Regions from separate parts of the Homo sapiens genome. Here regions 1, 2, 3 and 4 are each reported to be linked to region 5. The links are microRNA targets in miRTarBase. Many come from high-throughput screens and were not tested one by one. Region 5 holds a microRNA gene; each other region holds the end of a gene's coding sequence.
Evidence for each region. The annotated mature microRNA hsa-miR-6744-5p reads UGGAUGACAGUGGAGGCCU and lies in region 5 at 1,876-1,894, opposite strand. An mRNA with a match to its seed (bases 2 to 7 or 8) in the 3' UTR can be bound and repressed. Matches are read on the target gene's strand: a 7mer-m8 pairs with bases 2 to 8, a 7mer-A1 pairs with bases 2 to 7 and ends in A, and an 8mer does both.

Region 1 (4,524 bases), not on the chromosome of region 5:
GACCTCTGGGGCTACAGATTTCAAAGATACTCATCACAGACATCCTTTAGCTATCCTCCTGCCCAATGCTTACCCATCAGCTTTAACCTCTCTCACCCATGTACTGAAGAGTGCCACAGATAGTGTAGGCTTGAGCTCCCTGGGGCACGTGGCGGGACAGACCAAAGTCTGTCAGTTTCAGATGGCCTATGAAAGAAGGTAAGGCAACTGCACCACTGTTCCACCCATCATCAGCCATGATTTATTCCCAAACCAAAGTACCTCTCATCCTGGGGCTAAGGAAGGAAAAAGACTTACCTCGTTCATCTAGAAGAATATTCTCCATCTGAAAGATCACAGGTGAGAAGTAATTCTTCCTCTTCCTTTCAACTCTCTTTCATCATGTATACACCCCAGCTGAAGGTGATGCCCTACTCAGCACTCAAATCTATACTCAGAGAGCCCTTCCCCAAATCCTTGGCACCCATGGGGGCCCCAATGTCTACAGTTCTCAGCTCCCTAACTTCTTGGACTTGTTGGCACTTCTTATTGAGACTCTTTCTCAGACAAAGGGAAAAAAGCACTTAACTCTACCTTCACATCTCGATGCATGATGCCCAAGTCATGGAGATAACCTGTGGATAACAAGTATGGGGTATGCTGCAGCTTTTCTGTCCTTTCCAGTTTCCCTAGTAGCCCTCATCCCATCCCTATCCTATTCTTTAACTTCCATTATTAATATTAATTTTTTACTCTCCTTCTTCCGAACTTAAATCTTCCCTCCCCATTTCCTTTACCACTGTTTCACTTACACAGTACCAGCACCAACTCGGCAGCAAAGAGACGGATGGAAGCCTCAGGAAAGCAGCCAACAGCCGACCAAAGGGAGTACAGATCTGTGCTGCAGTAGCTACACACTGCAAAGCCAGTGTGGAGCTACATACATTGCCAGAAGTCTAGGCAATGTTTGGGAGCTGCAATGCCTGGGCTCAAGGCATTGTAGGCCTCCTGCCCAAACTGATACCACCTGCTGTTCCCCTCCCTTTGGGACAGAGAGGTGCCATGAGAAGGGGGACAGAGCAAAGGCAGAACAAGCCAAAGAGGTAATCTCAGGTGGGGAACATGGTACAAAGACCCTGGGGGATGAGGAGAGAGTCCAGTCACTCACTAATGAAAAGGTGCCGTTTTCCCTGCCAGCTGTCCCCCAAGCTGTGTACAAAGGGATGGTTGATCTGTCGCTAGGAACAAAGAAAACAGGAAGTTAGGGAGGAACAGGGTCATTGAGAATAAAGGCAGCTGAGAAATCAGGTTTTACCCAGATGTGCAGAGGGGGAACTGCTGCCTCACCTCTCAGTTCAGAGGAACTCAATATTTGGAACTGACTATCTGGTAATCCTAGAACCAGCAAATACTAAGGAATACACTGGGACATGCTTCAGAGATTTCCCTAGTAGGACATGGGAAAACTGTGTTGAGAGCTGATACTTTTCCCAGGATCTACTTTAGTGTTAAACTAGGCTGAAGCAGATGGATGAGGCAGAACCAGGAAAAGAAGGTGGGCAAGAAAGGTACTTTCCCTACCTGTGGCCTAGCTCTTCCCACAATCCTTTCCAGGACTCTGTGCATACCTGGATGCTAACCTCCTCTTTGCACTGCCTCACGGTATCCCTCTGTAGGACCTTTACCTTGGGCACCACCTATAAAAGGAGAGTAGTGATGACTCATAGATAGTGCTATTGAATTGTTTATTCCTCCCAACCTCTCTGGAATCAAGATTGGAAACAGAGACTAATGTGGTATCTACGCCCCTACCTTCACTGCAAATACAGCTTTCTGGGTGCAATCTAGCACCTTGAGGACAGTTCCAAAGGAGCCTTTAGCCACGAGGCCTAAAATCTGTACAGAGGAATGGAGAACAGGCCAGTTGAGACTGGTCATTTTTAACTTCTCCCAAAGACTGAGACCCCACTCAGGGATTCCACTGACTTACCTTCAGCTGCTGCTGCCCCCTAATGGGCCTAATGGGAAACTCTGGTAGAAAGAGGTTGATGAACTGAGGCACTGGCCACTCTGGCAGAGGCTTCTCTACCAGTACTGGGGCTGGCTTTAGGGATTCCTGGTGCAGATAGTGGTGCCCCCGTAGTTCCCAGAGTTCTTCCAGATCTGACCTGATGGTTCCCAAACCTGTCCAGAGGCTCTTCCAGCCTCGGGCCCAGGGACCCCGGATGTTGCCACCCTGCTGAGAACCAAGGGAGCCACTCTAAACTTTCTGCTCCTGAGGCATAGCAGGTTCCACCCATCTTACTAGGCACTCCCTCCCCTTAAGTCTCAACCCCTAGAGGTACATTTTTGAGCATGAGGCAAAATTCCCATTACCCTTGCTTTGTGCTAAGCCCCAGATTTCCTGGGCACAATTCAAATCCTCTAGGAAAATAATTGTTGGACATTTTCACCATGACGCATTAAGAGTACAGCCTGCACCTCAGTATTGGGCTGTGATGCTTTCATAGTACAGCCTCCCTGCCCCACCCCCACATTGGGTAATCACTTCCATGCTCCTAACCAGGAACTTCCCAGGACTCAAGCCCATGTCTCCCTCTCCTCCCCTCAGTAGGCTGCCAGAGCCCCACAGCCTACCTTGTGAGGGACAGCCACCCGGGTGTGTTCCCCCTGCTGGGTGTGCTGCCCCTGCCGACAGCTTACTGCTCCCATTCCCAGCCTCTGCCTCCTCTCTCTGCTAAATCTGCTGTCCCAGTTATATAAGCAATTCCTCTCCCTGATGCTGCGTGACACGAGCCCCGCCTCTTCCAGTCTGCAGAAACCCATCAGCATGGGGCCAGAGTCACACTAGGACTAGAAATTTCTGTGATACAGCTTCAGGGCAGAGGAAGGAAGGGGCCACCCTCAGAGTGGCAGCTGCAGGATGTTCTGGGTTGATGAGGGAGGAATACACAGATTGAATGCATGCACTCAACACACACACACAAAAATGAGCATCAAATTTAAAATATCTTTTTTTTTCTCTTTAAATCATTTTGCCATTCTCCAGGGTATATCCTACGGGGAAGGGTAGGGGACCCATGGCCAGCCCTGGCTCCTACTGCCATCCTCCCAAGTGAACTTAGCACAGAGACTGGGGAGGGGTTGACCCCCACTCCAGAACACCAATACCTCTTTCAAACATGACAGTGGAGTGAGGATCAGAGGATCAGCCCCCTCCCGTTTCCTGGCACAGAGGAAGGACAGTTACACTTAGAAATATATATATAATATATATATATTTATATATGTCTATAAAAATTTATCACACTTGATCAGGACTATCCCCCTACCCTTTCACTTGACCCCAAGGGAATAGGGTCCTGCCCTGGGCCCATTCCCTGGGTCTTGCTCTCTTGTTGCCTCTCTGGCCCTGAGCCTGATCAGTGTGAGACAGAACTCAGCATTACTGTCCACCATGCCCTGCAGCGAACAGACCAGGTGCTGAAGAGTGATGCCTATGGGCTCTGACACCCACAAATCCTCGTGGATAACGGGAAGCCCCTCCCACCCCACAAGTCCCTGGAGCCTGAGCCAGAGTCAGATCCTGTACTGCAGCCACTCGAATCGCCAAATCATTTGCGCCTGCCAAAGATGGACTTCTTGCCAGGGTTCTTGTCGCCCACACTTAAACCAATGAGGAGCCGGGCTTTCTCCTCCTCTTCCTGCTGTTGCATGTTCAGGTCCGATTTAGTTTCTAGCTTTCCCCGGACCTCAGAGCCTGTTGCAGACTTCAGCCTTAGCTTCTCTTTGATTACCTGGCAGATTGGAGAGGAGTAAAAGAAAATGTAAATATTAGTGGGCAGGCAGAATAAATCAAAATGAACCAAGACAATAAAGATTTATTAAACACATCCAAGGCACAATGGGGCAATTCACATACAATGGTCTCTGCTTTCAAGAAGCTTACAGTCTAATTATAACCCCTTCTAAACTTTAGGTTGTGTTAGCTCTCAGTTCCCTAAAATCAATGGTGCTATACGAAACACTCAGTAAACACTGAATTTAATAATCTGAGTGAGGTCATGGAGAGGGTAGGCATAGAAGCCACTCACTTCATGCACCTGCCCCTTCCCAAGGATATTTATTCATGGATTCTAAAATGAAAGGCTCCTGAAAAGAGGATCTGCCTGCCAGCCCCATTAGCCAAACAGCCATGAGCCCTGGCGGGATACCTGGGCAACCAGGGCTTTGCGGCTGTCCCTTTTGACAGCCATGGCAAAGTCTAGCCATGTCCATGTGTTGTTGTGGTACTCCAGACAGGGCAGCACCAGGTTAAGGTCACCCCAGTCCACACTGTTCTTCTCACCCTGTAAGAGGAGGGGGAGGGGAAAGAAAAAAAGAGGGGTGGGGAATACATCAGCTGCCATTTTGAGTCCCAGCCAGCCACTTGAGTGCCAAGTCCTACAATAGTAACCTACAGATACTGATTTCCCCTTACCTCAGCCTCGTAATGATGCTGACTCTTGAGGGGAGCAGAGGGAACAGCAGATTTATCACCCACAG
Region 2 (3,000 bases), not on the chromosome of region 5:
GGGCGACAGACCCCGTCTATAAAAAATTAAAAAATAATGTGCATGGTGGTGCACGCCTGTAGTCACAGCTATTCAAGAGGTGGAGGTGGAAGGATCACTTGAGCCCAGGCGTTAGAGGTTACATTGAGCAGGGATCTCACCACTACACTCCAGCATGGCTAACAGAGTGAGACCCTGTGTCTAAATAATAATGTATGGGCCCTTTGGATAAGGTAGTGTTTGTGATTTAATGTAAACTGTCTTTTTCTTGTTGCAGAGAAATGCTAACTTTGTCTTCTTCATCCATACAGGTTGGTGACATCGTGAAAGTCACAAGGATGAATATAAATGGCCAGTGGGAAGGCGAAGTGAACGGGCGCAAAGGGCTTTTCCCCTTTACGCACGTCAAAATCTTTGACCCTCAAAACCCAGATGAAAACGAGTGATTGCTGTTGCCCTGTTTCCTGCTGCTTTGTTGTTCTGCCTGTCCTAGTCTCCTTTGAAGTGGGAAAGCATTTTCTCTCATAGGCAAGTCACACTGCATTGCCGAAGTCCAGCTTTCTGCAGACTGGCAGTCGCACACACATTTGGAATGCACACAGCGGCTGCCTCCTGATGTTTGTATCATAGTCGTATTGTCAAAGAGTAGCCGATTTTAGAGTTCTTTTGGATCATAAACTGGAAATACTGATGGAAGCACACAAGTGGAGAGAAGTTGACATGGAAAGGGTCTTCCTTCTCATTGCTGCCCGTTTGTACATGGGACTGATTCTGTTGTGTTCACCAGAGAAAGCTTGAGGCCATGGCGAGATACTGCATGTTTGCTGTTCCACAAAGCAGTGGCTTAGCTGCCATCTTGCTTTTCTTTGGACAACAGGAAGTGAACCTTAAGGAAGAGAGAATTCTGTTCTAAAACTCCAAAATCTGGCTTTTTTTTTTCTTTTGTTTTGGTTTGGTTTTGGAAAACTAATTAATTAGACTTGTGTGGGGGTTTTTTTTTGTTTTGTTTTGTTTGTTTTGTTTTGTTTTTTTGAGACGGTGTCTCGCTGCATCACCCAGGCTGGAGTGCAGTGGCGCAATCTCGCCTTCCTGCAGTCTCCGCCTCCTGAGTTCAAGCGATTCTCCTGCCTCAGCCTCCCAAGTAGCTGGGACTGCAGGCGCGCACACCACGCCCAGCTAATTTTTGTATTTTTAGTAGAGACGGGGTTTCATCATGTTGACCAGGCTGGTCTCAAACTCCTGACTTCAGGTGATCCACCCGCCTTCAGCCTCCCAACGTGCTGGGATTACAGCCGTGAGCCGCCGCGCCTGGCCTAGACTTGTGTGTTCTAAACAGGTTAAGTAGCAGGTTGGGTTTTTATGATAGTGCAAGGAATGACTCATGCCTCTGAGCTTCTAAACTGAAGCTGCTGTAACTAAAGGAATCTGAAAAGAACAACCCTGAAGCAGAGGCCTTTATTGTCTTGGTTGCCAGTAGTACCTTGTTTTGCCATGTAGCAGACAACACACAAAATAATGCAGTTGTGGTGTGCCATGCTATGTGCACAGCCCCTTGGATTACTTTGTTTTAAAAAGCATCAGAGTTGGGGGTACTTTAGGGAAACCTTTGCTTACCTTGTTTTGCCAGTGATAAGAGCAGTGGGTTGGAGGGCACTTGGCCAGTTTTCTGTTCAGCTTTTCAGTGAATGTACCCCTTTAAGGTTCAGACTTAAACTTCCTTAAAAAGTGGCGTTGTTCATAGAATCGTTGGACTCATTAATGAATCGTTCAACTCCACTCACTGAAGCCCAGACCTCCGTGCCCAGGCCCAATCTCGTCAGGCTGCCAGAGAAAGTTGGTGCTGCTCATACTGGTCTCACAGTCTAAGTAAGTGTCTGTGATGCTCCCAAGCAAAGGAAATGCAAGCTCTGGAAATTCGTTAATGTATTTGATGTCTTAGTGTTTTAGTGACTAGGGAGACCATTAACTAGTTTATCATTAACCACTTATCAGTGTATTGATGTTAAAGCATTTCCCTGTTAGCTAAAAGAGGCCTGTTCATACAAGCCAACTGGTATATACGTGTGGTTCATCCATCATCTGCTGCACATAGCAGACTAGAATTCTGGGAACCCTGTGCAATTCAGTCTGCTCTCCCTTGTGGACCCTGGTAAAGAAAAGCCTCAGCTCATAGTGAACACAGCAGACCTAGAAATGTAGCAGCAGCCTACTGAGTAGCTTTCATTTACTGATCATCTGCTGTGACTGTGGCCCTGTCTGGAGGTTCCTAGGTTTTGAGATTTAGAGCAATGCATTCTGGAGACAGAACCAGCAGAACAGCCATTTTTCAATTTTTCTTTAAATCAGTATTCCATCAGGCAGATAACTGCTGTATTCATGAATCTTGAGAGTGTTCCTGAGACAGAATTAATGGTCATTTGGGAAAACTATCGCCATGGCTTCCCATCTGTGGTTTTCCTCTAAAAGCCTTGGAGATTAGCCCTTCCTTGCCAGTGAGAACGGTGACCGCCTCCTGCTCTGCACGGTCTGCGGCAGTTGCCGCTTCTGGTTAGGTGTGTCAGGTTGGCTTATTTTGGGTTCAGGCCTGGCGTAGCACCCACAAGTGGCAGACATATCACAAGAGTCCCCAGACTCTGCCTAGAAACAGTGTTTGCCCTTTGGCCAGTGACGTGGTTCATCCCGGCCCATGTTGAGCCATGAGTGGAGTTTCCAACAGAGGGAGGAATGTGTGCCTTGTTCAAGGAGGGCACGACCCTTAGGCCTTTTTCAACCAGATTTAGCTGAAGGGCTTGACACCTTTGAATTACAGCAGTTGACTCAGAGTGCAAGAAGTCTGGCCATTTTGGAAAGCAAGGTTTCCTTTCAGCCCTGTCTACTGACCAATACCCCGACTCACCTTGTGTGGCGCACTTCAGAATCAGATATACCTAGAGTATACCTGTGGTTTGGTTTTATAATTAATCAGCTCGTTACTTCAGCCCATGAAAATGGCATCCAGGGCTGCCAGGAGATTCAGAGCTC
Region 3 (4,524 bases), not on the chromosome of region 5:
TGCTCCGAAGTGTTGATTTCCATATGTATACAATGGCCCAACACAAAACAAGCATACAAAACGATACTCAATATCCTTGAAAAATCTCAGAGCTGTTTTTACAGTAGGAAATCCAAGGACAATAAAAATACCTTCTTGAAAAACTCTAACAGCTGATATTAAACTCACCAATCTGACAGACTGTAAATTGCTGAACACTCTGACGGGTCTTTAGATACCACTCCGATGGCAAATCAAAAAGACTGTGAACAAACAGGCATCTCATTCCACGAGCAATGACATCCCATCCCGGCACTATGGCCTCCGCGGCAGGACCACCACTCGCAACCGGGGAGGATTTTTTCCTTGTTACAACAACTAGGGAGCACTACCATCATTTAGTGGACAGAAAAAAGCAAGGTCCTCCAACACGTAGGAGCAAGCCACACAAAACGTCCTGCCCCCCAAATGCCAACAGGCTGCTGGCCAGAAACAGTGCTGGTCTGGCCAGGCTCTTATACAGAGGGGACACAGCTTTAGTTTTACCTGATCTGCTGGGGCCCAGACAGGTTAGAACGAAGGCCCGTGAACTCTATGTCCAGACCTGCCAGGAAGGCAAAAAATAGCAGTCCTCGGGTGCAGAACATCGCCAGCACTCCTCACACTGTAGATCTGCAGGCGGCCAAGGCACCCGCGCTCACCTCTGCGCTCAAGAAGCCAAGTGAGGTCAGGAAGGGAAAATGGAGGAACCAAGGCAAGGAGCAGCCAGGCACCTGGGCGCACGGGGCTCTGGCCAACAAGGGACGTGGGGCTCGGAGTGTACTTGCTGCTCAAAGTCCCACCGCCCCGGGGCTGGAGAAGGAAGCCCCCCTGTCCTTCCCGAGGCCCTCTCTGAGGCCCTGTGGCCTGGCAACCGTCCCGCCACCCCCTCCTCAAGCTCGCCCGGGGCAAGGGGCTCTGTCCGGCACAGCCGCGAATCCCAGGCTCTTCACCCACGAAGTCGGCCTCCTGGACGAGCTCCTGCAGCAGAGGGAGGCTCTCCTCGAACTCGTCGGCGCCCACGTCCATGGCCGTGCAGCTCCGCGGAGTCGCCCAGCGCTATCACGTGCTGCCCACGTGCTGCCCACGCGCTTCCGTCGCGCCGCCGGGTCTTAAAGGGCGCACACATGGAAACCAGGCAGCTGCCTCCGCCCCACGTGCCCAGCTTCCCCGTGTGCTGCTGGCGTCGCCCACACCTGCCTGCGGGTGTTTTAATTGTACGATTTGCTACAGAGGTTTGATTGCAATTGCAATCAAAGCCTGTTTACCTGGCTCCTCAGCAATTTCTTTGCAGCCCTTAACGTGAGAATGTCATTTACATGGACTTAGAATGTTAAGAGGCGTGGCAGGAGACGAAGACAGAGTCCAGAAAGGGTGAAATCAGAAAAGCGGAGCAGGAACAACACCGGACGCAACTGCAATAAGCAGATCCTTTGCTGCGGCTCACGGTCTTCTAAATCACCTCTTCCCAACTTCTCCATCACTGCCAGTATGTCTGTCCCCATTCCCTCTCCCACGCCCCTGGACATCTTTTTCCTCATTCTGCTGTCCACCTTACCACTGTCTTCACACCTGCAATCAAACTTTGCAAAGCCTCAAGAACTGCCCATTAAATTGAAGGAATCCTTGGTCCCCAGGGATTATCTCGTGCACTCACTCCTTGCGGAAATCCCTACCTACATCATCACATACATGTGAGCTTAATTTTTACTTTTGTTACTGTTTCCAGTGCAACTAGTCCATGGTCTTCCTTACAGTGTCCTCCCTTGAATTCTAGGCTTCTACTTGAACAGCGTTTTGGAACTATGGTCCTCAAAGTGAGGTGCTCAAATCAATCTTTAAGGTTAGCGGAGAAAACATTACCGTTATACTTTATTTTTTCCTTTTGAGACAGTCTCACTCTGTCACCCAGGCTGGAGTGCAGTGGTGCCATCTCGGCTCTCTGCAATCTCCACCTCCTGAGTTCAAGCGATTCTCCCGCCTCAGCCTCTGAACAGCTGGGATTACAGGCATGCACCACCACGCCCAACTCATTTTTGTTTTTAGTAGAGATAGGGTTAAACCGTATTGGCCAGGCTGGTCTCGAATTCCTGGCCTCAAGTGATCCACCTGCTTCAGCCTCCTAAAGTGGTGGGATTAGAGGTGTGAGGCACTGCATCCGATCTTCAATTATACTTTTAAATGCCTCTCCGGGACATTAATTAAGCAAAAGGGGACTATTAAGCCATTTGATTCTGAAGACCTCTCAGAACAAATCATACTTCATACAGATGTGTTCCATTTAAAATAACACATTGAATACTCAAATTGGCAGAAGTAACATATTTCACTTCTAAACAAACATTTAATTGGGGTATACATTAAAAAAACTGGAAAACAATGCTCTAGAAGCCACCTTAACTGCCTACAGGTTTTTTCTCACATTTATCAAATAGCCAAAAATTAACACCTTAATCAGCTCCTTTCAGAGAACTGCCATGATTCCCATCTACCCAAGCTCAAATTTTAGATTAACTTGCATGCATTTCAAGTTTCATCTCCTATCTAATAAAATGTTCACTTCATGGCAAATTGAGCGCCCACTAACCCCAACCATTTCCACCTCTGCTTTCAGCTCCTGATGCCACCTCCTTCCTCTTTCAAATTTGTTTCTCTTACTGTTGGGAACCAAGAGTCCAAGTGAGGTTGGCATTTGGTCCTTTCATTTTCACATACTGACTGTTCTATAGTATTAGATTGATACTGACATTTCCTATTTTAAAAAACAACCCACACTCCGAGCAGCAAACAACTGTCATTCACTGAGATCACTCGCCATGAACTAGACACAGTAATAAGTGCTTTACATCAACCTCATATGTGCTCCACTGCCACAGTGAGCTCAGACAATGTCATATAACCAGAAAATAAGAGTTCATAATATGCCTTTATTTTGTAATTTATAAACAACTTCTGACTTGCCCTTTGAAAGTTAATTATAATTGATGACTGCTTTTCTTAGATGCTTCTGAAGCCCAAGAGAGGGGCAGAACGTAGTTCTTGATTTAAAAAAACAGAAAGGGGAGGAGGATGACCTTAACTACAAATAATATTCCACTGCAACATTATTGCTGTAAAACTTCCAAGCTGGCTGTTCTTCCAGATGCTCTCTTTTGATGGCTGTAGTGGCTGACAGATTTATATTTACATGTTCAAAACAATTAATGCTTCCATTTATTCATAGATTCTCTGAGGTTCCCGTAGAACCACACCACCTTCTGTCATGGCACTTTGTAGTCGTTTCATCTGGTTTTGAAAATCAGAAAAAAAAGGAAAAGATTAAGTCAGCAGCACGAGTAGGCTGAAAATACTTTCACCTTCCAAAAGACAGAAATAAATTGATTTGTTCTTGCTAACTTCCCAGCCTACAACGGTTTTTCAGAAAGTGATCTTAATAATGATGTAAGTAAAAAGGAAATGTAGAGATGTCAAGGTTCAGCAGCATTTCAAAATATTATATGGACAAGATGTCAATATATGAACAGGAAATACAGTGGCTGACATCATGGACTACAGAATCAGTCACCCTGGGTTTGAAATCCACCATACACTGACTCTGGGCAAGTAAGCCTCAGTTTATTTCTGTATAGAATGAGAGTACTAGTCCCTACCCTATGGACTGATGTGAGGATTAAATGAAGTAACACTGTTGAGTACTCACCAAAGGGTCTGACACATGGAAAGTATTTGGTAAGTAAAAACTGTTATTATTATGTAAGTTATCTAATGCCAAGAATTAACACAATACCTTTTCAATAAGTACATGAAAACAAAAATACCGAGTCTGAGGCTGCCTCCCACGGGGTTGGTTGGTAGACCATGAAGTTGATTCCCGCCTCTAAGCATCTCTGTGCCAGCACTCGTCCTATACTCTCACAAGCCACCACATTTCTGGTACTATAAAGGTGCTTTTTAATAGCCCACTCACGAGTGGAGGCCGAAACCACAACCTTGCCATTCTGATGCTCCACAAGTGCTTCTACATGATGCTGAGTCCTTATAACTCGCAACCTAAATGGGGTGAGAAGATAATAAAATCACAGAAGAATCTGTATCCTAAAGTTACATTAATTGAGGTGAATAAATGACTAAATATTTTTCAACAATCCAGTGTTTGGTTCATTTACTTCAACATATTTAACTTGGATTTTGCTTGGGAAAAGTATTTTTCCTCCGCCTTTATGAGAATATCCTCAATAATAACAAACTAAATAGTTCAAGTATCATGAAGAAATTTGTTTCTGAAGAGCTGAGTTTTATTTACAGATCTACTTCAAAAAGAGATTTGAAGAGACAGAGCTAAGTTACTGAACATATGCATGACATGGATATACTTACTCTTTGCTTTTATTTATAGCTAGCACCAAAATAAATATAAGACGGAACAAAAATTTAAATGCAAAAACTGAAATCATAACAGTACTAGAAGAAAACATGAGAAATTTTTTTATAATCTCAAGGTATGCA
Region 4 (4,254 bases), not on the chromosome of region 5:
GGCAGAAGCTAGATCCCAAGATTGCTGTGGCTGCGCAGAACTGCTACAAAGTGACTAATGGGGCTTTTACTGGGGAGATCAGGTGAGATCGAGGTGGAGAGGGGTGTGTGGGACCCTTCCCTCACTTTCCTCGTTGAGGGGAAAGCCACAGGGTGGGCTCCCTGCTGAACCTTGGCTTCATCTCTTCCTTTAGCCCTGGCATGATCAAAGACTGCGGAGCCACGTGGGTGGTCCTGGGGCACTCAGAGAGAAGGCATGTCTTTGGGGAGTCAGATGAGGTTAGTAGCCAAGAGAGAAGATAAGGGATGTCTTTTTCCAAGAAGGATGTCTCACCAAGTCTGTTTCTCAACAGCTGATTGGGCAGAAAGTGGCCCATGCTCTGGCAGAGGGACTCGGAGTAATCGCCTGCATTGGGGAGAAGCTAGATGAAAGGGAAGCTGGCATCACTGAGAAGGTTGTTTTCGAGCAGACAAAGGTCATCGCAGGTATCTCTGGAGAAAGGGACCTTTGAGCCTATCCAGGGCCACAGAGACTCAGAGGGTAGGGTCAGGCCCTGGAGCCTGTCTTGGTCCCCATGCTGATCCAGAAAAGGAAAAAGGGGAGGGGGAGTGACAATCTTTGCTTGGGGCCTATGACTTCTCCAGCCCCAAGGTAGATGCCACCTGGAAATCCCCCAATGTCCACTAGGGGGCAGTAGGCCACCGTTCTTCGTACTCCGGAGAACCTGGCTGGAGAGCTCTTTCTTGTTCACCCTTCCCTCCATCTGTATCTCTGCCCTGCAGATAACGTGAAGGACTGGAGCAAGGTCGTCCTGGCCTATGAGCCTGTGTGGGCCATTGGTACTGGCAAGACTGCAACACCCCAACAGGTAACCGGGCCCAGGAGCCCTGCCCTCATCCCAGCCTGCCTCAATAGGTTTGGACAGACACAGCCCACATGGGGCAACCCCTTATTTCAAAGACACAGAGACCTTGAACCCAGAGACAGTGACTTGTCCAAGGGCATCCAGTCCAGGGCCTGGCTTGGATCAGAGCCCTGGTACTCTGACTCAGTCAGAAACCACACTAAGTGTCCACTGGTGCCAGTGATTTTTCCTCTTAGAGAGGCAGAAAAGGTCTTACTTAGGCCAGCTTCTTGTTCTAGGCCCAGGAAGTACACGAGAAGCTCCGAGGATGGCTGAAGTCCAACGTCTCTGATGCGGTGGCTCAGAGCACCCGTATCATTTATGGAGGTGAGTGGCTTTGGTTCCCGGCTGAGGTGGAGTGGGCTGAGGACTAGACTGAGCCCTCGGACATGGAGGTGGGGATGGGGCAGACTCATCCCATTCTTGACCAAGCCCTTGTTCTGCTCCCTTCCCAGGCTCTGTGACTGGGGCAACCTGCAAGGAGCTGGCCAGCCAGCCTGATGTGGATGGCTTCCTTGTGGGTGGTGCTTCCCTCAAGCCCGAATTCGTGGACATCATCAATGCCAAACAATGAGCCCCATCCATCTTCCCTACCCTTCCTGCCAAGCCAGGGACTAAGCAGCCCAGAAGCCCAGTAACTGCCCTTTCCCTGCATATGCTTCTGATGGTGTCATCTGCTCCTTCCTGTGGCCTCATCCAAACTGTATCTTCCTTTACTGTTTATATCTTCACCCTGTAATGGTTGGGACCAGGCCAATCCCTTCTCCACTTACTATAATGGTTGGAACTAAACGTCACCAAGGTGGCTTCTCCTTGGCTGAGAGATGGAAGGCGTGGTGGGATTTGCTCCTGGGTTCCCTAGGCCCTAGTGAGGGCAGAAGAGAAACCATCCTCTCCCTTCTTACACCGTGAGGCCAAGATCCCCTCAGAAGGCAGGAGTGCTGCCCTCTCCCATGGTGCCCGTGCCTCTGTGCTGTGTATGTGAACCACCCATGTGAGGGAATAAACCTGGCACTAGGTCTTGTGGTTTGTCTGCCTTCACTGGACTTGCCCAGATAATCTTCCTTTTTGAGGCAGCTATATAAATGATCATTTGTGCAAGAAAAAAAAAAAAACAAGAACAGGTTTCTATAACAACATCTCTTACTATTTTTACTTGAAAAAATGTTTTGCGTAGCAGACTGTCATAGCCTTGAACGCCGGCTCCCTTTCTTCCTCCCTCCAAGTGGCTCTGGGGCTGTTGATTTCCGCAGAGCTTGGGTTGGGGTAGGGGCTCAGCCTCACCAGCTTTCAGCAGCTGGTCTAGGCCAGCAGTGCCTCCCCACCTCCCCAAGGGGAGGGGTGGTGGCAAGACCTCAGCACAGTCTGTGGTATCACAGGGCTCACTGGTAGAGCAGGTAGCGCTTCATGGCAGGGGGCAAGGGCAGGGCAGACACCTGGCCGAGCCGGGTATCCCCCAGGTTGTGGCGCACACACAGGCGGCTCAGGTGCAGAAGGGAGTGTGGCTCCGCTGGGAGAGAGAAGGAGGGGAATGTAAGTATGGGTGCAGCCACCAGCCAGATGTCCTCAAACTACGGGGTCCTACTCAGATGCCTTTCTGCTTTCCTGCTTCGAGTGTGCCCACCTGGCTGAAAGGGGAATTTGAGATACCCGGAAGTTCTGCCTCCCAGATAAGATTTCACACATCCCTAGTCAGAGCTGGGGGTGAAGAGCTGGCTAAGGCCCTCTAAACAACAGGCCAAGGTGGCTCTGACAGTGGTGGAGCTGGCCCAGGCTTTGACTCCAGAGGCTTGGGAGCTGGGGCTGAGGTGAGGAGGGATGGCCCTCCACTCTACAGCCCACACAACTGCAGAGAGCAGCTCCAAGCCCTGGACCCAGTCAGTTCCTGGGGAGGCTCCTCCCCTGCTGCCCCACCCTAAGGCCCTGCCTCCTCCACTGCTCTCCTCCCTGGTGCCCAGGGCCCCAGTGTCTCCATCCAGAGGTGTGGCTGAGGAAGGAAGTAGGTATGTGGCACAGAGACAGGTTAGAGCCCAGGGAATCCGGTATACAGCCTGGGTACCTGGCTCTGCCCATCCTTCTTTTGGACCTGTACATCAAACCCAGTACCTAACGCTTTGCACCTCTTGCTCAGGGGTTGATATCTCCTGAATTCTCTCATCCCTGCAGTTCCTCCCTCCATTCTGAAGGTTCACCATTTACTGGCCAAGAGAACTTGAGAAAGTTGCTTTCTCAAGCCTGTTTCACCTCTATTGCTGTTGGGTTAAATTAAATAACAGCTGTGAAGACCCCTAGCCTTTCCCAGCACTGAACAGAGGTTGAGGCAGGCTGGATGAAGGTCCATCCCCTCTGCTCTTGTCAGAAGAGTTTCCATCCCAAACCACTGCCACCAGGGACAGAAAGTTCTCCCCACGTCTGCCCCAGGCCTCACCTCTCCTTTCGCCCAGGTAGCGGATGCGGACCTGGCACTGGCCCCAGACAGCGCTTACTGCCGGATAGAGGGTCCTGCCCTTCAGTCCGCGGAATGCTGGCCCCAGGTAGGTGCCCCCAATAGCGTAGCCCAGAGTTCCCTCCTCCATGTCCAGAACCACCAGCAGTCTCTCTGGCACCTCCAGCTGCTCACCCTGAGTTCCCGCTGGATACTGGGGGGCTCCGGGCCCCTTGCTCTGATGGTACAGCTTCCCCCGCCCGATGTCCCAGCCCCACGACTCGCTGTTGCTGCCCAGCAGCGCCGCGTAGTGGTCAGTCTGCAGCGGGGCGAGGGCCGTGGCCACGCCCACCACGGCATGCGTGCCCCTCTGCTCTAGGGGCCAGCTGATCTCCCAGGCGTGCAGGCCCCTTGAATAGCCCCTCTTACCCCGGGCCCCATCAGTGCTCTGGGCCACGGGCCGCCGCTCAAAGTACAACCCTCCTTCCTTGACCTCGATGTTCTCTGAACAGTCTTTGGGGTTCCAACCGTGGCGCCGCTGGGCCCCCAGGTCAGGAGGGGGTGCAGACAGCAGCTCTTCCAAGCCCTCGGGACAGGAGAGGTCAGGGTACAGGGCCTGTGGCGTGGGGGTGCTGCTGCTGCCCCCTGCCAGAGCTGTCTGGCCCATGGAGGTGAGGAGCTAGAGGACTCCCCGAAAGAGGCTTGCTGGGGCGTCTTTCTCTTCTGAAAGTTGAGCTCCAGTTTGGATTGACCTGGAAGGGAGCTGGGAGAAAAGGGGCGTGAAGAGCAGAATCCTGGCGGGGGCTCGTCACCCAGGTACCCCATCCTTTCACCCAAGTTTGCCAACGGGCCCGCTCCTCCCTCCTCGCTGCCCCAAAGCTCCTGGGCCCTTCATCTGCCCTCGCCCCATCTGATCCAGGTCGCC
Region 5 (4,524 bases):
CGTGTCCAGGGCCCCTGTGCGGATCGGCCCTCAGGGCAGGAATGTCAAGACAAGGAGTGGGGCTCAGAGAGCCCCGGGGCATCCCACACACATGTTCAGGCCCCAGGGCCACACCCACCCACTGCTGTGCCCTTACCCCGTAGAAGGTGCCATTGTACGAACACAGCTGAGGTCCTGGAAGGAAAGGGAGCTAAGCCCTCGACAAGTGGTGGGGAGCATGTGCTCCAGCGCCCCCACCATCCTGCACTCCCCCACCCCCAGCAAGAGGCCACCCAGGAGCCCGGCCCCAGCCCCGCTCACTGCAGCGGAAGGTGGGACAGCAGTCGCCCTCCTCCTGGGTGCAGATGGACTCCTGCCCTGGCGGGCACACAGGCAGGCTCTGGGGGCAGGTGGTTGTGTTGCACACTGCGGGAGGATGGAGGCCACTGTCTGGGCGCTGCTCACTCCTCCTCCCGACCACTTGTTCCCAGAGTAAGTCGCAGGCGTGCTTTTCCCCGAGGACCTGACCGCTTCACAGCCCCTGGGGGCTCCCTCCAGGCCCCTTGCTTGGCCACCTCCCCGCTGCTTCCCACGTCCCTGGGCCACTCCTGGGCAGGCCAGAGGTCACCAGCCTCATCGTTAGGAGGAGAATGAAGCACCTGGAGGCCATCTCTGCCGAGTGGTCCTGCCGCGGTCACGCCAGGACACAGTGGCTCTCCTCTGCTCTCCTGTGCCCAACCCACAGGCCCCTGGTGGGCACCGGCTCTGTCCCCCCTCACCCTATGCCGGGCACCTCTGCTCTGCAGCGTCTTACCGCACACCGTCTCGGGGCAGCAGGGGTTCTCGGCCCGGGGCCTGGTCACGGTTACGAAGCCGGGACGGTTGCACGGCGGGGGCTGACCCTGGGCGTCACAGGGCAGGGGCTTGCACTGCACCGACACTGAACCCTCGTCACACACGCAGGACTGGCAGTTGCTGACCCACCGCTCCCCGGGCTGGAATGGATCAAGGGGGTCCCTGAGGGCTCCTGGACAGACACAGGTCAACCCTGGGCATCTGTCCAGCCACCCCCTCCCTCGGGCTGGTACCCGAGTGGCCCAGAGTGATGGGGCAGGAAGCGCACACCAGCCACTGGCACGTCCACGTCACACTCGGGCGCCCCACAGCTGCCCTGTGGGATGGGGATGCTCCTTCCCTCCCTCCCTCAGCTCGCGAGAGGGTGGGGTAGGGCAGGTGGGGGTGGAGCCACTCACAAATTTAGGAAACCCATCGGGTCCCACGCAGGCTGGAAAGAAAACAGCATGGCATCACGGAGGGTGCTGAGTTTGCAGGCGGAGGGGCCTCTGGCCATGGGAGGTGCTCTCAGGCCTGGAGCCTGCTTCCCCCCGGGATGGAAGGCCCTGGAGAACTTTTGGGGTGTCAGATGTGGCTGGAGCTCAGGCCAGGGCACCGTGAGCCCAGCTGTCAGTGCATGGAAGCCTCGTCCATGGTGGTGGGAGGCAGGGCTCAGGGGAGGGACCATCACAGGATCACTCAAGGACAGAGCCTCCCTGTGGGGCTTCAGGGGACCGTGGGGGCTCTGCAGGGTTCAGGGCCACTCTGGGGCCATCCCATGCTCTGGTGGGGCAGAACAGGTCACGGGGGTCAGCTGGGGAGAGGGGAGAGCACATCATGGTCCTGGGCGGCTCCTCCCACCCTGTGTGTGCTTGGGTCGGGCCCAGGGTCGTATCCCGCCACAGGTGGCGGAGCTTACGGCAGGCCTGCACGCAGATGCCCATGTGTGCGTTGAAGAGGATCTGGTCCTCAGGGCAGAAGCAGCCCTCCGCCATCCCCTCCAGCTGTGGGCTCTGGTTCCTGCAGGATGACAAGAGAGGCCCTGAGACCTAGAGATCCAGGAGGCCTCCACTGTCATCCACGTGAGTCCCCAGGATGGGCAGTGGGGAGCAGGGAAGGAGATGAATGGGTGGAGTGCGGGGCTCAGGGTGGGCGGGGCTGGGGGCGGGGACGGGTGGGGCTGGGGTGGGGGTGGGCGGGGCTAAGTATGGGCGGGGATGGGTGGGGCTCGGTGGCGGGGCCAGGTGGGGATGCGGGGCCAGGCGTGGCCAGGGATGCGCCCCCTGCCTGACTCTGTCTCTAAGGCATCTGGGAGCAGCAGGGGATGTTTTCCAAGGAGTCCTGGGCTCGGGCACCCCAGAGATCTGTGGCCCACAGTGGGACACCCTCTGGCCTCCTCCTGCTCCCCCAGACCGGTCAGGCAGGCCTGGGTGGCAGGGAAGGCACCAGCCATCCCTGTACTTACCTAGAGTTGCAGGTGGCAGGCTGTATGGGGCCGCATGGCTTGTACACTTTGGTGGGTGGGCAGGTGAGGTCTGTGGGCACAGAGAGGTGTCAGACAAGCCAAGGGGTTGGGGGGGCCCAGGGCCGCCCCCAATCACCGCACAGGACACTCAGAGAGGCCGAGGAGTCTGGGGGGCCCGGGGCCGCCCCCACTCACCGCACAGGACACTCAGAGAGGCCGAGGGGTCTGGGGGGCCCGGGGCCGCCCCCACTCACCGCACAGGACACTCAGAGAGGCCGAGGGGTCTGGGGGGCCCGGGGCCGCCCCCACTCACCGCACAGGACACTCAGAGAGGCCGAGGGGTCTGGGGGGCCCGGGGCCGCCCCCACTCACCGCACAGGACACTCAGAGAGGCCGAGGGGTCTGGGGGGCCCGGGGCCGCCCCCACTCACCGCACAGGACACTCAGAGAGGCCGAGGGGTCTGGGGGGCCCGGGGCCGCCCCCACTCACCGCACAGGACACTCAGAGAGGCCGAGGGGTCTGGGGGGCCCGGGGCCGCCCCCACTCACCGCACAGGACACTCAGAGAGGCCGAGGGGTCTGGGGGGCCCGGGGCCGCCCCCACTCACCGCACAGGACACTCAGAGAGGCCGAGGGGTCTGGGGGGCCCGGGGCCGCCCCCACTCACCGCACAGGCCACCGGTTGCACCTCGCCAGTCACTGCACACTCCCCGGGCGCGGCAGAGCTCTGCGTAAGCCTCCAGGCTCTGGCAGGGCACCTCAAGGCGGCCCCTGCAGTGGTCGCTGATGCAGGCGTTGAAGAATGGGCCCGGGGGCACAAGGTTGTGGCACTCAGCAAAGACCCTGTGGGGCAAAGCGATCAGGACGGAGGGCCCCCAGCCCCAGGGAGCTGCGTGCGTGCGTGCATGCGGGCGGGCGGGGGCGCCCCAGGGCCTGCAACCCCCGAGGGGAGGACTCACTGGCTCAGCATCAGATCACAGAGCGGCTGTGGTGGGCATGGGGTGGGGGTGGGTGTGCTAGACACCGGGGCTGCGGGGCTGGCAGTGGGGGGTGTGCCAGTCGGGGCCCAGCAGCCATCCTTTCTGCTGTCGGGGACCAGCCACGTCTTGGCCATGTCCTTGCAACTGGCGGCAGTGGTTCCGTCCCGCTGGAGACAGTCGTCCCTCTGGTTGTTGGTGCAGGTGCCTGGGAGTGGGGGCGTCACCGCGGGGCTGGAATCTGGGGAGCCTTTCACAGCCCCCACCCCCCTCCCCCACTCATTCCCCTCCCCAGGCTTCCCCTATGCTCACTGGGTTGTCAGGCCCAGCAGCAGCCCTGGCCGGGGCAGGACCCGCCGCCCACTCACCGCACTGGCCCTCGGTGTTGTTGTGGAAGAGGCTGTAGGGCAGCCGGGCCTGGAAGACTTGGCCATTGAAGGTGACGCTCACGCCCAGGGCAGGAATGTCCACACGCATGGTGGTGGTCCCCAGCACAGACACAAGCACGCCGTTCTTGCTGAAACCGCTGCTCACCGGAATTTGGTCAAACAGGATCTGGGGGAATCCAGGGGAACCCTGAGCTGGGAGGCAGTGCCAGGTGGGCTCGGGGAGCAGGGCTTCTCTTTGGGGCTCTGCCTCCATGTGCAGAGACCCCCCTGTGTATCCCCCACCCCAAAGCCCAGATCTTCCCTGGGGGCCTGGAGTCTCCAGCTGGCTGCATTTAGGCCACAGGGTGCGCTCGGCCTTAGGCGGCTCCACAGGCCTTCCCTGCCCCCTGGGAGCTGTCTTGGGCACTGGGCCATCGCTGCGGCACCTGGGTCACCCCGGCCTGCAGTCGGCCTGCCCAGGTGCGGTTGGGACTGGGCCAACACTGTGCCACCCGCAGCCTGGACTCACCAGGCCCTCCTCCTTCCCATGCACCATGGTGACAGTGAGGACGATATCCATGGACTTGTAGTGGATGCTGAGGGCGCGGGGGCAGCGGGCGGCAGCGGCAGTGGCAGAGGCCGTGCAGTAGTGGTTGTCCAGGTAGAGGCTGAGATTCCCAAAGCGTGCATGGATCTCTCTCATGAGGACATAGGTGCAGTTGCCCCGGAAGGTGTAAGAGGTGCCGTCAAAGGTGGAATAGTGGGAGCCGCCCCACATGCTGCAGATGCCTGCGGGACAGAGATGGACGGGCTGGCAGGCTCCGTGGTGGTGCCCTCGCTCCCCAGGCGTCATGGCAGCCAGCGTCACCACTGTGACTGCCGCCTTGGGGAGCCACTGAAG

Region 1: miRTarBase lists BLTP2 as a target of hsa-miR-6744-5p. The part of its 3' UTR that is shown has no 7-base or 8-base seed match.
Region 2: the mRNA of CRKL is a reported target of hsa-miR-6744-5p. Seed matches in the 3' UTR shown: 7mer-A1 at 2,048-2,054.
Region 3: the mRNA of MRPL18 is a reported target of hsa-miR-6744-5p. Seed matches in the 3' UTR shown: 7mer-m8 at 3,086-3,092.
Region 4: the mRNA of TPI1 is a reported target of hsa-miR-6744-5p. Seed matches in the 3' UTR shown: 7mer-A1 at 1,597-1,603.

The regions. Positions count from the first base shown.
Region 1 is chr17:28,611,471-28,615,994 of GRCh38, forward strand. BLTP2 (bridge-like lipid transfer protein family member 2) reads right to left here. Exons shown (of 39, transcript NM_014680.5): 38 at 4,194-4,328; 39 at 2,976-3,776. The coding sequence ends at 3,594. It overlaps RSKR (ribosomal protein S6 kinase related), which reads right to left and starts at 2,715. Exons shown (of 12, transcript NM_001174103.2): 1 at 2,617-2,715; 2 at 1,970-2,218; 3 at 1,792-1,875; 4 at 1,608-1,676; 5 at 1,148-1,217; 6 at 792-896; 7 at 574-614; 8 at 298-325; 9 at 97-186; 10 at 1-11. The coding sequence starts at 2,691. The region is part of intron 2 of SPAG5-AS1 (SPAG5 antisense RNA 1); the gene reads left to right. RefSeq lists an enhancer at 1-1,079.
Region 2 is chr22:20,949,421-20,952,420 of GRCh38, forward strand. CRKL (CRK like proto-oncogene, adaptor protein) reads left to right here. Exons shown (of 3, transcript NM_005207.4): 3 at 291-3,000. The coding sequence ends at 425. Among named protein-coding and RNA genes, the nearest start is that of LINC01637, 6.2 kb to the right of the region's middle. RefSeq lists enhancers at 2,099-2,600, 2,601-3,000.
Region 3 is chr6:159,796,831-159,801,354 of GRCh38, reverse strand. MRPL18 (mitochondrial ribosomal protein L18) reads right to left here. Exons shown (of 4, transcript NM_014161.5): 3 at 3,837-4,068; 4 at 2,926-3,303. The coding sequence ends at 3,232. It overlaps PNLDC1 (PARN like ribonuclease domain containing exonuclease 1), which reads right to left and starts at 1,079. Exons shown (of 19, transcript NM_001271862.2): 1 at 972-1,079; 2 at 526-583; 3 at 169-242. The coding sequence starts at 1,047.
Region 4 is chr12:6,868,906-6,873,159 of GRCh38, forward strand. It overlaps TPI1 (triosephosphate isomerase 1), which reads left to right. Exons shown (of 7, transcript NM_000365.6): 2 at 1-82; 3 at 194-278; 4 at 353-485; 5 at 783-868; 6 at 1,144-1,231; 7 at 1,360-2,043. The coding sequence ends at 1,478. It overlaps SPSB2 (splA/ryanodine receptor domain and SOCS box containing 2), which reads right to left. Exons shown (of 3, transcript NM_032641.4): 2 at 3,333-4,092; 3 at 2,030-2,414. The coding sequence starts at 3,996. The coding sequence ends at 2,287. Among named protein-coding and RNA genes, the nearest start is that of SPSB2, 2.3 kb to the right of the region's middle. RefSeq lists enhancers at 1,816-2,401, 3,728-3,967 and a silencer at 3,058-3,177.
Region 5 is chr11:1,253,980-1,258,503 of GRCh38, reverse strand. MIR6744 (microRNA 6744) reads right to left here and starts at 1,899; the gene lies at 1,834-1,899. MUC5B (mucin 5B, oligomeric mucus/gel-forming) reads right to left here. Exons shown (of 49, transcript NM_002458.3): 34 at 4,153-4,412; 35 at 3,624-3,810; 36 at 3,238-3,463; 37 at 2,946-3,121; 38 at 2,279-2,348; 39 at 1,733-1,833; 40 at 1,233-1,264; 41 at 794-974; 42 at 301-405; 43 at 137-174.